Linked DNA regions of Homo sapiens. The protein of the gene in region 2 interacts with the protein of the main gene of each other region in a pairwise test. Each region holds a gene or a part of one and is shown on either strand. Other genes may lie near its edges.

Evidence for each region.
Region 1: the proteins of RAB22A (region 2) and APPL2 interact in binary tests that used the Homo sapiens proteins (3 or more experiments, as listed by UniProt).

Annotation. Positions count from the first base shown.
Region 1 is NC_000012.12:105,233,175-105,240,356, forward strand, and holds the start of APPL2 (DCC-interacting protein 13-beta), read right to left. Parts: upstream 3,001-7,182; 5' UTR 2,839-3,000; coding exon 2,785-2,838; exon of another isoform or gene 1-2,784. UniProt on the Homo sapiens protein: Multifunctional adapter protein that binds to various membrane receptors, nuclear factors and signaling proteins to regulate many processes, such as cell proliferation, immune response, endosomal trafficking and cell metabolism.
Region 2 is NC_000020.11:58,354,697-58,361,721, reverse strand, and holds part of RAB22A (ras-related protein Rab-22A), read right to left. Parts: intron 2,117-7,025; coding exon 2,019-2,116; 3' UTR 1-2,018. UniProt on the Homo sapiens protein: Plays a role in endocytosis and intracellular protein transport. Mediates trafficking of TF from early endosomes to recycling endosomes. Required for NGF-mediated endocytosis of NTRK1, and subsequent neurite outgrowth.

The DNA.
Region 1 (7,182 bases), on a different chromosome or scaffold from region 2:
CTGTACTGGAACTGTTGCCTCATTATCTGTCTCTGGAACAAACTGTGAACCAGTCAAGGGTAGTCACTCTTATTTATCTTCACATTCCCAACAGCCAGTAGTGCCAGGCAAGGAGCAGAGGCTTCTAAACAACAATGGAGGCAGATTTCTTAATCCCTAAAATGTTCAGCTTCCCACATATGAGAGGTAAGCAGAAATAACGCATGTGTATGCACACAGACTAGTTTTACAATGCATCGTGCAGCACTGCAAACTAAAAAGGAGTCCATGAATAGATGTGTCTAAGGTCAGTTAACTGCTATTCAGCTCTTCCTGGGTCACTCAGTTCAATTACAAAAGCTTTGGTGTTCATTTAATTCATCCTGTGCAATCACATTACTGAAGCAACTCTCAAAATTACTCTTCATAAAACTAGAAGAAACACACAATAGATGGTTTATTAGGATCTTTTCCTTTTAGTGAAACATTTTAGGTCACTGATGACAGAAAAGCCCGGTGCTAGATAGCTGGGCTAACTTGAACCATATCCCTAGTACAGGCAAGTTGCCTGGGTTCCAGTCCTGGCTCTGTCACTTTATGGTGTATAATTCTAAGCAAATTACTTCTCTGCTCCTTAGTTATTTAAATAGAGAATGTACTTCAAGACTATTGGGAGGATTGAGTGAGTTAATATATGTAAAGCATTTAGAAGAGTCCCTGGCACATAAAATCCATGAAACAGGCATTTGCTATTGTTTTTATGCTTTGCACATAAAATGAAGGGGATGGATTAGATTCCTTCCAGTTCCAAGTCTAGGAGTCACCTTGGGAGTAAAGCTACATTAGGCACAGGTCACATACAAGAGAGTAGTATATAAATATGCTCTGATGATCATTAAAGACCTTCTTAAAGTCAGCTTCCATTCTGCACAACAGCACCATCAAGAGCCCTCTTAAGGGTGATGGCCAAGTCTCAAAAGCAATGACAAATAAACTTCCTATATTAAAAGGAACATATTAAATAAGAATGATAATATCTCTAAACCTCCTCTGCCACATACAAGTTCAAAGTTATACACCATGTAGATATGACAATGTTAACTCTAAAGCACCTTGAAGATCACCTGCTCCCTCCCTGTCTCTCATTCTGTAGATGTTCTGTAGATTAGGAAACTGAGCCAGCTACAGGGTGGAGATGAAGAGACTCACCCACATCACATCCTAAGTGAGCGTGAGAGCCAGAATTAGAACCCAGGTCTCCTGACTTGCTCTACAGTCCTGTCTACTTCCTCACAGCTGGGCAAATCCTTTAAGCCACTCACAAACAGTGTATATTCCTTTATGTTAGAGCTGGAAATTAAGAATATGATCTGTTTGTGAGGACAACATCAAGAATCAGTTAGTATAATCACTGTAACCTGGCTTAGGCATCACCATGTAGGTTAGAAAAGCAGGATATTTCTGTGCACCTCAGTTTCCATAAGTGCAAGGCAAACAGAGATCCTTGTTCAAAGTGATCATTTAAAATCTCACATTGCTATCTTCAGATTCCACACAACAGATATGAACATGGACAAAATGCCTTCTACCAAGGGCTTTAGTCTGATTAAAATGCCAGGAGTCTACAGCCATATAAAAAAGGGAGGCCTTGAAAAAGTCGTCCAGAGGATGCAAACTTACCAAAAAACAAAACAAACAAACAAAAAACACACACACAGCTTGCTTCCAGTTCCTTACTTATCTACACTAGGAGGATCACAAAAAATGAACAAAAGACACCTATGCATACAGCCCTTCGGACTTATTCTGAACTGTCGATGTAGGTAAATCCATACAAGGATCATCCTGGGAAGTATTATTCACTTAGAAGAAAAAGGGAAGGAACCCCAAAAGAGAGGGGAAAGTGTGAAACGAAAATAGGTTAATCTTATTCTAAGTTTTCAAGAGTTGAGACACTAGGAAATAAAGGCACTTATTTAAATAAACCCGGGATGCTGAACCAGGAGTGTAGGTACGAAGCTGGAGAAATGTTAAACAAAGGAGAACAAAAGACCCCTGGGGAAAGATGTGCTGAATTATGAACTAATGTCATCCTGCACTCATTTGCTATATTTACACACCAGTTTTCATCTGCAGAGCTCAAAGGACTTGACTCTCATCTCGAGTGTGCTAATGAAGTTCCCTTGTGCGACAAATGGGGCAGGTACTGTATTTTTCTCTTCACTAATGGGAAAACGGTGCCAAAAGGAGGCCTGGTACCGCCGGAAAAGAGATCCAGGCCCTCTGCCTCTCATTCTGGCTGGCACAAGTCTCATCACATCATTAGGAGTAGCAGTAATAAGACTGACTCATTATCTGTACCGGACATTGTCTGCTGACAACTTTACAGGTATTTCTCATTGACTTCTCCTAACAACCCTATGAAGCAGGCACAATTATTATTCCTATTTTACAGACGACAAAACTAAGGCACAATAAGGTGGTTTTCCTGAGGCACTCAGCTACTACATGGAATCAAAGTTTAGATCTCGCAGACTCAGTTGCAGCTGAGCTTGCAGGGGGGTCACGACATCAAGACTCCGGCCGCGGGGCTCTCTCCCCTGTTCCACAGCTCTGCCCCGGCTCAGGACTCAGGGCCCGGCCCGCCCCCTCCTCAGCCCGAGAGAACCCGGTGGGAGGCGCCGCGAGGGGGCCGGGCGCACTCCCGCGGCTGCCCGGCCGGGGGCGCGGCCTCCACTCCGGGGCTGGAGGGGCCTCCTCGGCCTCACCCCTGCGGGCGAGGGGCACCGGAGCGGCGGGAGGTACCTGGGGGCTGTCCTGCAACGCCTCCTCTAGCAGGAGCTTGTCCACGGCGGGCATGGTGCGGCGCGGCTCAGCCGAGGGCTGGGTTGGAAGGACAGAGGGCAGGAGACGCGGCGGCCGAGAGCACTCCCCGGCTCTGGGCTCAGGCGACGCGGCGGCCACTCCGTGCCCGCGGCGGCCCCGCGCGCGTCCACGCCTGGCCAGTGGCCGCCGCCGCCTGCCCGCCGGCCCAGCCCCCGGCCGAGCCGGATCAACAGGAAGTGTGGCGCGCCCGGCAGGGAAACCGGAAGTGTGGTGAGCTCCGGTCCCGACACCGGAAATGTGGCGCCCGCGCTTCCGCCTGCGCTCGCCGGCTCGCGGGGAGCGGGGGGCTCTGGGTGCCAGTCCCGTTGCTGAGGGAACCCTTCGGGTGTTTGTTCTCTGTGCTGAAGGTCCGTCAAGTCAATGCATATGAAGTCCAAAAGAGGAACTCGAGGGTAGAAAGATAAGGTTTTATCTGCTTATGGCTACCCAGAAAGCCTTTTGAGTTGAAGGAGCGAACAGATTTTTTCTTTTAATGGAAGGAAAAACCCACACTTCCCACACCACTTTTTCTAGATAAATTTCGACGCCCCTGAAACAGCTCTGAGAGCAAAGAGGTCGCCTATGCTATGGGAACAAAGAAAAGAGGAGAAAAGCTGGATAACTGACTCGTCTGTGATAATCAGAAATAACCACTTTGGAAACCACAGCTATTTGATGTGGTCATAATTAGGTCTCGTCCTCCTGGTTTATGTTTTGTGATTTTGGAGAATTTCATAATCAAATGTTTAGAATTGGAAGGGCTAGATAATCTAGGTTCCAGTGTTGTCATTTAGAGATGAGAAAATGGGACCCAGAGAAATAAGTGGTCTGCCCAGGGTCAGTTAGTAAACGCCAGAGGAAGAAAAGAAGGAAGGGAGAGGGATGGAAGAAGACTGGCAAGTGGAACGTGACACCTTTTTACACGGAAGGCAAGGGTTTCTGAAGTTCCTTCTTTAGAAGTTAATAAGACTGGCCGGGCGTGGTGGTTCACGCCTGTAATCCCAGCACTTTGGGAGGCCGAGATGGGTGGATCACGAGGTCAGGAGTTCAAGACCAGTCTGGCCAAGATGCTGAAACCCCGTCTCTACTAAAAATACAAAAATTAGCCGGGCGTGGTGGCATGCGCCTGTAATCCCAGCTACTCGGGAGGCTGAGGCAGAAGAATCACTTGAACCCGGGAGGCAGAGGTTTCAGTGAGCCGAGAGGGCACCACTGCACTCCAGCCTGGGCAACAGAGCAAGACTCCGTCTCAAAAAAAAAAAAAAAAATCATGCAGTATGTGTGTCACCAAAATCAACAGAGGGGATATGGTAATATATAAATTCTGCATTCTGCAGAGACCTCTTAGGTATATCAAGACCCAATCTGCATTGCTGACACCTCTGACAGTCTAGTATAGTAGCATGCTGCCTGATCACTTGAAAACTCCAAGGCCATTATTCCCTTGGTCTGGCCAGCGCCAACCTGACCTGAACCATTTTATGGCCTCCATCTACCATATTTTCCTCCACAGTATTCTTTCTTCCCTATTCTTTCTTGCCTCCACCATACTCTTGTCTTCCCTATAGGTGGAATCATGCTCACACCATATTTCTTCCCTTTCCTCTATTTTATACCGCCTGCCATTCAGTTCATTTTACCTCATCCAGTGTCCCAGACTCTCTTCTCACTGAAATCTAATTCCTCACGGCCAGACTCATGCTCTTCCTTCATCCTGATTGCGAGAACAGTACAAGGATAGTATTATACCCAGGGAAATAAATGTGCACATTTTAATTTGAAAATATGCATTACAAGAAGTTAGTGCCCTCAGAACCCTTGAAAGGGCTCAGACAGCCCCTTGGGAATCACAGCATTTTTCATGTACCACCTCATCTTCTAATTAAAGTTACTTTTCTTCAAATACTAGTATTCAACATTCAAAAATTGTTTAAGCTATCCCATTACTTTTCTGCATTTTCTTGCTACATTATGGGCTAAACAGCCTTAGTGGGATTTCTTGGAACTTAAGAACTGTTTACAACATTGTTTCTATGGGAAAATCTATCCCAAATTCAAAACAACTAAGTTACAAAAGTAGATCTGGAAATACAACACATGCATAAATGGTTTTAATTTATCTCATTTGTTAATTCATCCAATCATTCATTCATGTATTAAATATAGACTGCTCAGTGTTAAGCACTGTCTCCCACTTGTTTGATTCTCATTTAAATTCTGAAGGCAAATATCCTCTCCTTTGATAATCTGTGAGAAACTACATAAGAGGAATTTTTATGTCAACATGAACATTTAAAAATGTTTCATTAAAGAGTATATATCTGTTCCTATTAAACTATTATGCAGGTGGATTTTAGAAATCCACCCCACTGTCTCTGAAATCCCTGGTCAGCTGTGAAGTTGGTGACAGGAAGTATAAAGATGGACAGTCTGGAGTTGTCGTGATGTCTGAAGAGAGAGAGGATGAATTATATGGAGGTGTAACCTGTGACCCATTGAAGGCCAGTGGGGAAAAGGACACAGTGAGACACAAAAAAAGGACCCAGGATGGCCAGGTCAGAGAAGGCCTGGGGCTTCAGGAGTAAGAGAGAAAGGCAGGAGTGAAGAAGGCAGCTGTTTTGGGAGATGCTTAGCAAACTGCATGATAGGGCACACGCATTGAGATTCTTTCCTCTGCCAGTCAAGCCCTTTCTCCTGCCTCTTGTCTGACAAACCCAACCACAATCATCAAATCCCAGTTTAATGTGACTTTTTTGATGAAGTCTTCATTTACTCCTGTCCCCCCAAGCAGAATACATTTTCCTTTCCTTGAGTGTGCTTCAGTAGCACTTGCCGAGATAATTCTAGAATAACACTTACCTCTCTTTGTTTCCACCTCCAACCTTCCAGCTAGAATGGGTAGGAACTTGGTCTTATTTATTTCTGTAATTAGAGTGCCTAGTACATTACCTAGCACAAAAGCAGTTGCTTGATAAATACTTACTAAACTATAATGTGTTATTATAACTTATACATGATTGATACTCCAGAGTTTAAAAAATGTTTTCATGAATCTCATTTCATTTGATAGCACAATGCTGCTTTTGCCGTTAATCATTCACTAGGTAGCACCGACTGTGTGTTAGACTCTTCTCTAGAAGCTGAGGATATAGGCTGAAGCAAAAAGTAGTCCTTGCCCTAATGGAGTTTATATTCTAATGGAGGAAATAATAAGAAACAAATACAAGTTGATAAGTGTATGATAACCTTTAGTAAAGGAATAGAGGATCATGGGAAGTGGAAAGGATTCTTTGAGGTGTGCAACTGTTGAGCTGAGAATTGAATCAGGGAAGCCCAGCCCGAAGGAAAGAACAAGTGTGAGGGCCCTGAGGCTTGCTCCTCTTTGAGGAGGAGCAGAAAGGCCAATGTGGCTAAGGACAGCGAGGCGGGAAAGAGTGGGAGGAGATGAGGTTGAAGAGATGCCAATCACTGGCTCACAGAGGACGCTGAGTCCATGGGGAAGGACTTTGGGTGTTGCTCTTGATATGGCAGGAAGCCACTGTAAATATGAGCAACTGAATGACAGGGTCTGATTTACATTTTTAAAGACTATCTCTGGGTTCTGAAGAGGCTTTTGCAATCCTTCAAGCAAGAGATTTGAGAGATATAGGTCAAAGTCGAGGGTATGGAAATGTTGGGAGGTAGTTGAAGTCTGAACATATTTTGAAAGTAGAACTGACAGGATATGCTGGATGTAGTATGTGAGAGAAAGTGGGAAAGCCATTGGGCAAATGGTCCTGTGATTTACTGAGACAGAAAACCCTGGGGAGAAGCAGGTTGTTGGTGGTGGCGCATCAATAGTGCTGTTCAGGCTGTTGTGATTGAGATGCCCGTTAGGCAATCAAGTGGAGGTTTCATGTGGGTACTTGTATATACCACTCAAGTTTAGGAGGAGACTGGGGCTGAAGGTATAAATCCATGAGTTCACCAACATGGGGACGTTATTTAAACCAAAAGAGTAGATGAGATTTCTTAGGAATCTAATACAGAAAGGAAAGAGGAAAGCTTGGTGGATTGAGGCCCAAGCAAGATCCAGCAGCTAATGGTGTAGGAGGAATATCAGGAGACTAATAGACCACCCTAGAAGCCCTATGAATGGGAAACTTGGAGGCACTACTATACTAAAAGCCAGGGGACAAAAGGTTTCAAAAATGAATTGATCCACAATGTCAAATGCAGCTAAGAGATCAAGTAAGAATAAAGACCAGAAATTGACCTTTAAATTTGCCAATAGGAAGGTCATTCGGTGAATTTGGTAAGAGACTTTGATAAGAGCAATTTTATTTGAAAGCAAGATGG
Region 2 (7,025 bases):
TCAAGCAACCTCTGTTTTTATTTTGTTGTCATGGAGATAGAGGCCCAGCAGTGGGAATTCTAGGGACACACCAGGGTGGTGCCCGGATGCCTGGGATCCATCTGGATGTATACAGAAGAAAGTCAAACTACTTTAGGTGTAAAGCGCCTGGCTCTGGGAATCACATGGCTTCTCTAGGAGCTTGCTAATTTAGCACCGGGGAGGAAGCAAAATCCTAGGGGCATGGAGCATCCACATGTCTTTTAAACAAAACGAAGTTAGAATTTTTACTAATGACATTCTTTTTATATGATTTCAGAAGATAAAAAAAATTCCAAATGCTTAAGATATACAACAGGGAAAAGGGAATTGTTTTTTATTTAATCTGAATTATAATTTTCCCATTAAAATCTATCCATATTAAGTGGGGGGCACAAAATAATACCAATTATTTTTTAAAGTTTCAGCTGTTCAGTTTCAGGATAGCTCTGAAAATACAATTTAGTTTGAAATTCAAGCTGTTTCATTTCCTATTAAATCTTGTAAATTTCCTTCCCCTACAATACTCAGGTTGGAAGGGTGCCAAATTAGACCAGGAACAAATTTTCACCAACTTCACTTCAATGCTTTATTTTTAGATGATATTAAAAACCTCATTAGGCTCCCTGAGGGAAAAGAGTGTTAACCACTAACAGAGGCAGGGGAAAAATAAAGGAAACAGAAAGATAAGCTAAATTGTTAACAAGGAAAGCTCCTCAGTTGGTCTGAGGATGCTGTACAAGCTAAAAGAAACTTATTACCAAGACCAGGTAAATGACTTGAGGTTGGAGCTTAATCTTTTACCCTCAGGCTAGTAAGGACTAGTCAGGTTTGTCAAAGTGGCATATGTCTTTATTATGATTTCCAGATGGGATCTGGTGGGAGGCGGGTGGGTAGAAGGGAAGGCAGAGAAACCTTTAAAGATTGTAAGCTAAGTGCTCTATACCTTTATACAATACCAATGTGCTTGAGTCTCCCGTTAAGAGGCTGAAAACTGGGCAGGCATACGCAAGACTGGGTGCGAGATTCAATGGAATGTCAAATGAAACTTAGAATTTATTAATGTATTTACATAATTTATAATCTTTAAGCAATGGCCCCATAAATATAGACTACAACTTTACATATGCTAAGCAATAGATACTTGCTTTTCCCCACCAAAATACTTGGGTTAAAAAAAAATTGACAGCATTTATACCACCTTCTTCACTTCCACTCTTCTTCCTTTTTAAACCATTGCTAGTCATTTTAGAACATATGAAATTCAGTTTATTCCGGGCAGCTTCTCTACCATCACCATCTTGATCATGAGAGCTTATTTAAAAAGGTGCCAATAACGTGTTTGGTGGCACACACATGACAAGGTCAGAAGCAAACCCAGGATGAGCTAGGCATCTGCTGCTATCATTGTTAATTTACTGTACGTATCCTAGGCTAACATGTTCAATGAAAAGTGCTTTAGAGATGGCAGAGATGAAATCATTTCCATCAGTCCTATAAATAACCCATTTTAGCTTCAGACAATAATTGTCCTCCCTACACTTAAACTATCCTACTATATGTTAAATGATACAACTCCCTCTAACAGTGGTAACAGAAACCAAGGAAATTATAATCTCCACAAGGTCTGTTTCTTTTCCCTTAAGAACCACAAAAGTGCTAATTTTCCCTTTACAAATGTTACATAAAATCTTGATTACAAAACTACTCAACAACTTAATCCTACCATCCATACAATTATATGTTCCTTTTCAGCAAGGTCAAAAGCCAACGATGTAGTCCCTTTGTACACTAGAGATTCTTTACATAATAGAAGTTCACAGACTGAAATATCATTGCTGCAGTCTTTGGAGAACAGAACTGGTCCATTTCTGTGAATCCTTTTTGCACGGAGAAGACTCAAGACTGGCTAGGTGAAAACTGGTGGCAGGGACCCCAGCCCTCCTGTTAACTTTCAGGACCACCTACTTCATCATCAAGTCTGAGAGGCTGAGGTTCGGTCAGCAGCAGCTCCGCTTTGGCTCTGAAGGCTGTCTTCGGAGTTTGAAGCCCTTACCGCCAGATGGCAGGTTGGCGTCAGTGGATGGAATTCTTCGACCTAAACCAAGATGAGAAAAGGGAAGGGAGTGAGCTTTAACTTTCTCAGACACAACAATTTTGCAGATGCAATTTGACAGGTTTCACTGAAGTAAAAAAAAAAAAAAAAAAGTTTAATAAACTTTTTATACTCGAATAATTTTAGATTTATAGAAAAGCTGCAAAGATGATAGAGCTCCTGTGTACCTCCCACCCAGTTTCCCCCAGTGCTGACATATTACCATGGGACATTTGTCAAAATGAAGAGTTCAACATTGCCACATCACTATTAACTCCAGACTTTTTTCAGATAGCATCAGTTTTTCTACATGTCCTGCTTCTGCCCCAGGATCCAAACAAGGATATCACACAGCACTTAGTAAACGTTTTTTAATTAAAAAAAGCCACACATCAAAAACATTTTGTTTTGAGTAGGTAATACATAGGATTTGTTTTTTAAAAAGTTCAGTCAGAACATGGTTGTCCCTCTGTCTCATGACAAGGCCACCACTGTGGCCCATTTCTCGTGTAGCCTTCCAGAGACATATATGCACAAACACTCAGGCACACCTATATCCCTACCCATCTCCCCTTTCCAAGGCCAAATGGGGCAAGAAATAAAGCAAACCATATGCACCATTCTCCACCTTGATACTTTCACTCAACACATCCTGGGGATTGTGGCATCATAGTACATGGAGAAAGAGCCGTCACCTTTTTTTTTTTTTTTTTGAGACAGGCTATCGGCTCTGTCACCTAGGCTGGAGTATAGTGGCATGATCTCGGCTCACTGCAACCTAAGCTTCCTAGGTTCAAGCGATTCTCCCACCTCAGCCTCCCGAGTAGCTGGGATTAGAGGCGTGTACCGCCACGCCCGGCTAATTTTTATATTTTTAGTAGAGACCAGGTTTCGCCATGTTGGCCAGGCTGGTCTTGAACTCCTGACCTCAAGCAATCTGCTTGCCTTAGCCTCCCAAAGTGCTGGGATTACTGATGTGAGCCACTGTGCCTGGCCTGCTGCCTTCTTTTTAACAGCTCTAAAATACTGCATTTGTAGATGTACCACCATTCATTTAACCATTTCTCTATTGATGGGTATTTAGTTTGTTTCCAATATTTTGATGTTATTAACAAAGATGCAAGAAGCATCTTTCTGAACTTACGAGTATGTGTGTAGGATTAATGCCCGGAGTGGAAGAGCTAGGTCACGGTATTCTACTCCTGGGTATTTGTCTGACACATACATTGTATTCCAGTGTCTATCTAGCACAAATGCAGGAAGAATGTGCAATTTAAATTTTGACAGATGCTGCCAAATTACTCTCTGAAGAGGCTGTGCCACTATATTCTCCTACCAACAATGCATGAGAATGAACAGGTTTCACTTCACTGCTCCGTGAAGCATAATGACAATTTCAAGAGAATCCTTAAATCACCCATCTACCTACCTGGCTGATAACTCAAGGGTTGCTTCTTGTACAAAGGCTTTCCTGACACCCTCCCACTTCCTTACTCTGTAACATCCCAGACACTACAATCAATCAGGACACCAGAAACAGGTTACTACACATATCTCATATCTGTTTACATGACTATCTCCCTCACATTAGACCCTAAGCTCTTCTAGGGAAGAGATCCTATTTGTCCATCTTTATGTTTCCAGTATCTTATCAGCACAATACCTGACACAGAAGTATTTTGTAAACATGGAATAAATGGACATGTACACCTTTTGACATTAACAAGGCTAAGATGGCCTCTCCGCTGACTCAGGTTCTCTCAAGCCTTGAGCCTCCACCACTTTGAGTTGTCTGCGGATCTGTGTGGGGAGTACACAGCATGGTTTCTACATTGAGAAAGTATCTCCCAATGTCTTCTAACTACTTTTCAAATGACTAGACACTGCTGTGAATATACTACAAATCTGTTTAAAAGCTTTACCCAAGCTTCTTGTCATTATTCTCAATAAATGGATATTGAAATATAGCTGGTATCTAAGAGACATCTGTGAAATATGACATCAAAAAATTGTTGAACAAATAATATTTTTAAAAGAAATAAGAGGAGAATATTTTCATGAGCTGGGAACAGGTAATGATTTCTAAAACAGCAACCAAAAACCTAATGCAGCTAAACATAAAGGAAAACAAGGATCAGTCAGATTATATGAAGATTAAAAACTTCAATCCATCGAAGGAGTTGACTAAAAAAATCAAAGGCAAGCCATACAGTAGAAGATACTTCCAATATACATAGTCAATAAGTGACTCATCTCCAAAATAAAGAACTATAAAACATTAAGAAGGAGGCAGGTAACCCAACAGGAAAACAGGCAAAAGACTTAACAGGCCCTTCACAAAGGAGGATATGTAGATACGACAAATGTAAACATATATTCGGAAATGTGCTCGACTTCATTAACTGTCATGAAAATGGAGATCACTGACTACCCACCAGAGACAGAAGGTGATCGGACTTCTCATACACTACCGGTATGGTTGTCAACTAGTACAACTACCACTTTGAAAACTGGTTGGCGGTAAAGCTGTACTGAATGCATGCATACTCAATGACAAGCATTTTTTCTTGTGGGTATAAATATACCTAACAAAAATGTGTACAGATGTTCACCAAAGAATACGATCAGAATGTTTAGAGCAGTACTGTTTGTAATAACTCTAAATTGGAAACAGCTACCCAAATGTCTATCAACAGCAGAATGGATAATTATATTGTGGGTATTCTTCACTGCCCCCTTACCCGCACAACTCGGACTCTGACACTCACACGCACAAACCAGCCATGAGAGTGGATCATTCACAGCTAGATGCAATGACATGGATGGTCTAAAAATGTAATGCAGAATGAAAGAAGCCAGACACACAAGAGGAAACAGAGTGTTTTTAAAAATATAAAGTACAAAATATATGTAAAACAAAACCAGATAAACCAATCTGAAGAATTAGTATCAGGATGGTTACCGTTGGGTGTAGGAACGGCCATGTCCCAACCAGAGTGCCAAGCACCGGAGTATATTCAGTTTGTGAAAATTCACTGAGCCTTATACTTCTGATACGTGCACATTTCTGTATGTCTATTATACTTCAATACAAAGTCAGTGTGCCAGGCACTGTGCTCACGCAGTTTTACTAAGCCAGTGAACAAGAAAGTCTATGTACATCTCTCCCAATTTTTCTAATCTTTGTGAACATATAGGTTTTGTTTTTCACAGTTAAATTGAATATGTACATACTAGTTTTTATATAAGACTTTTCATTGTTGGTATAGTTTACTATCTTCCTTTTTTTTTTTTTTTGAGATGGAGTCTTGCTCTTGTTGCCCAGGCTGGAGTGCAATGGCGTGATCTCGGCTCACTGCAATCTCCACCTCCCGGGTTCAAGCGAGTCTCCTGCCGCAGCCTCACAAGTAGCTGGGATTACAGGCATGCACCACCACGCCCAGCTAATTTTGTATTTTTAGTAGAGATGGGGGTTTCACCATGTTGGCCAGGCTGGTCTCGAACTCCTGACCTCAGGTGATCCACCCATGTTGGCTTCCCAAAGTGCTGGGATTATAGGTGTGAGCCACCATGTCTGGCCTACTTTCCTGTTTTTAATACCACTAAAGTGAAGAACACAAAAAGATAGCAGTAATTTTAACATACTCATGACACCACACACTTAGACATTTTAGCTTGAGCTGTGAAAAATTCCCAACTGGCTTTATGTTGCCTTTCAAAAATCCATCTGGGTACCTGCTATTTACATCCAGGACAACAATAAACATGATTTTTGTTTTTTTAAGAGACAGGGTTTTGCTCTGTCACCTAAGCTGAAGTGTAGCGGTGCAATCAATGGCTTACTGCAGCCTCAAATTCCTGGGCTCAAGCCATCCTCCCACCTCAGCTTCCCGAGTGGCTGGGACTACAGGTGCATGCCACAATGCCCTAGTATTTTGATTTTTATATTTTTTTAGACATAGGGTTATACTATGTTGCCTAAGGTGGTCTTAAACTCCTGACCTCAAGTGATCCTCCTGCCTCAGCCTCTGGAGTAGCTGGGATTATAGGTGACAACCACCATGCCCGGGCACATCATGACGTTTTAACACTGAAATGAACGGGCTGGCCTAGAGGGTGCAATCAGTAGTTCACTGGCCATATCTGGCAGCAGATGGGCTCCTTAGGCCTGCAAAGTACTCTGAAAATACTTAAATGATTGGCCAAATCTAAACAATGGGACATGTAAAAAAAAAATGTGAAAACAACCTCAGCAACCAGGGGCCCACATTCCAGTGTGGCCCCAGCTGATGGAGCTGGGCCTGGCCTGAGCTGGGGTTCCCAAGGCTTCACCTGGGCCTGCTCTGCTCATGGGTCAACCTTGCCTGGCCTTGGTGGGCTCTGGAGTTCATGCCCCTCCTCGACACAATGGCAAAGGACCCTCCCTGCTTCAGTACCCTTGGCTCTCAACCACATGGTGGATCTTAACGCTACATCCACCCTGCTCTGACGGCTTTCTGCTTTTCTCCACCTGGAAGTCTGACATGTTTATGTGACTCCCCACACCTCTACAGGGCCTGCTTCTTTGGACCTCAGCTCTGATAGCACCTCCTTAGGGAGACCTTCCCCAATTGCTTGCAGACATTCCTTCATTTCATCCTAAATTATTTTCTTTGTATCAGTTATTATGATCTGAAATGATCCTATTTATTTGGTGTTCACTGTCTGTTTCCCTCTGTAGAATGTGCGCTCCAGGAGAGCAGGGGCTGCGTCTATCTTCTTCACGGCTATTTCCCCTGAGCCTGGAACAGCTCCCAATAAATATTTTGATGAATTTGAATGAAATGAATAAACATAGATACGATCTGCAGAGGATCCCAAAGGCATGCAGCAGCCCCTCTCCCATCGAGTATCATCATATTAACACTTCTGG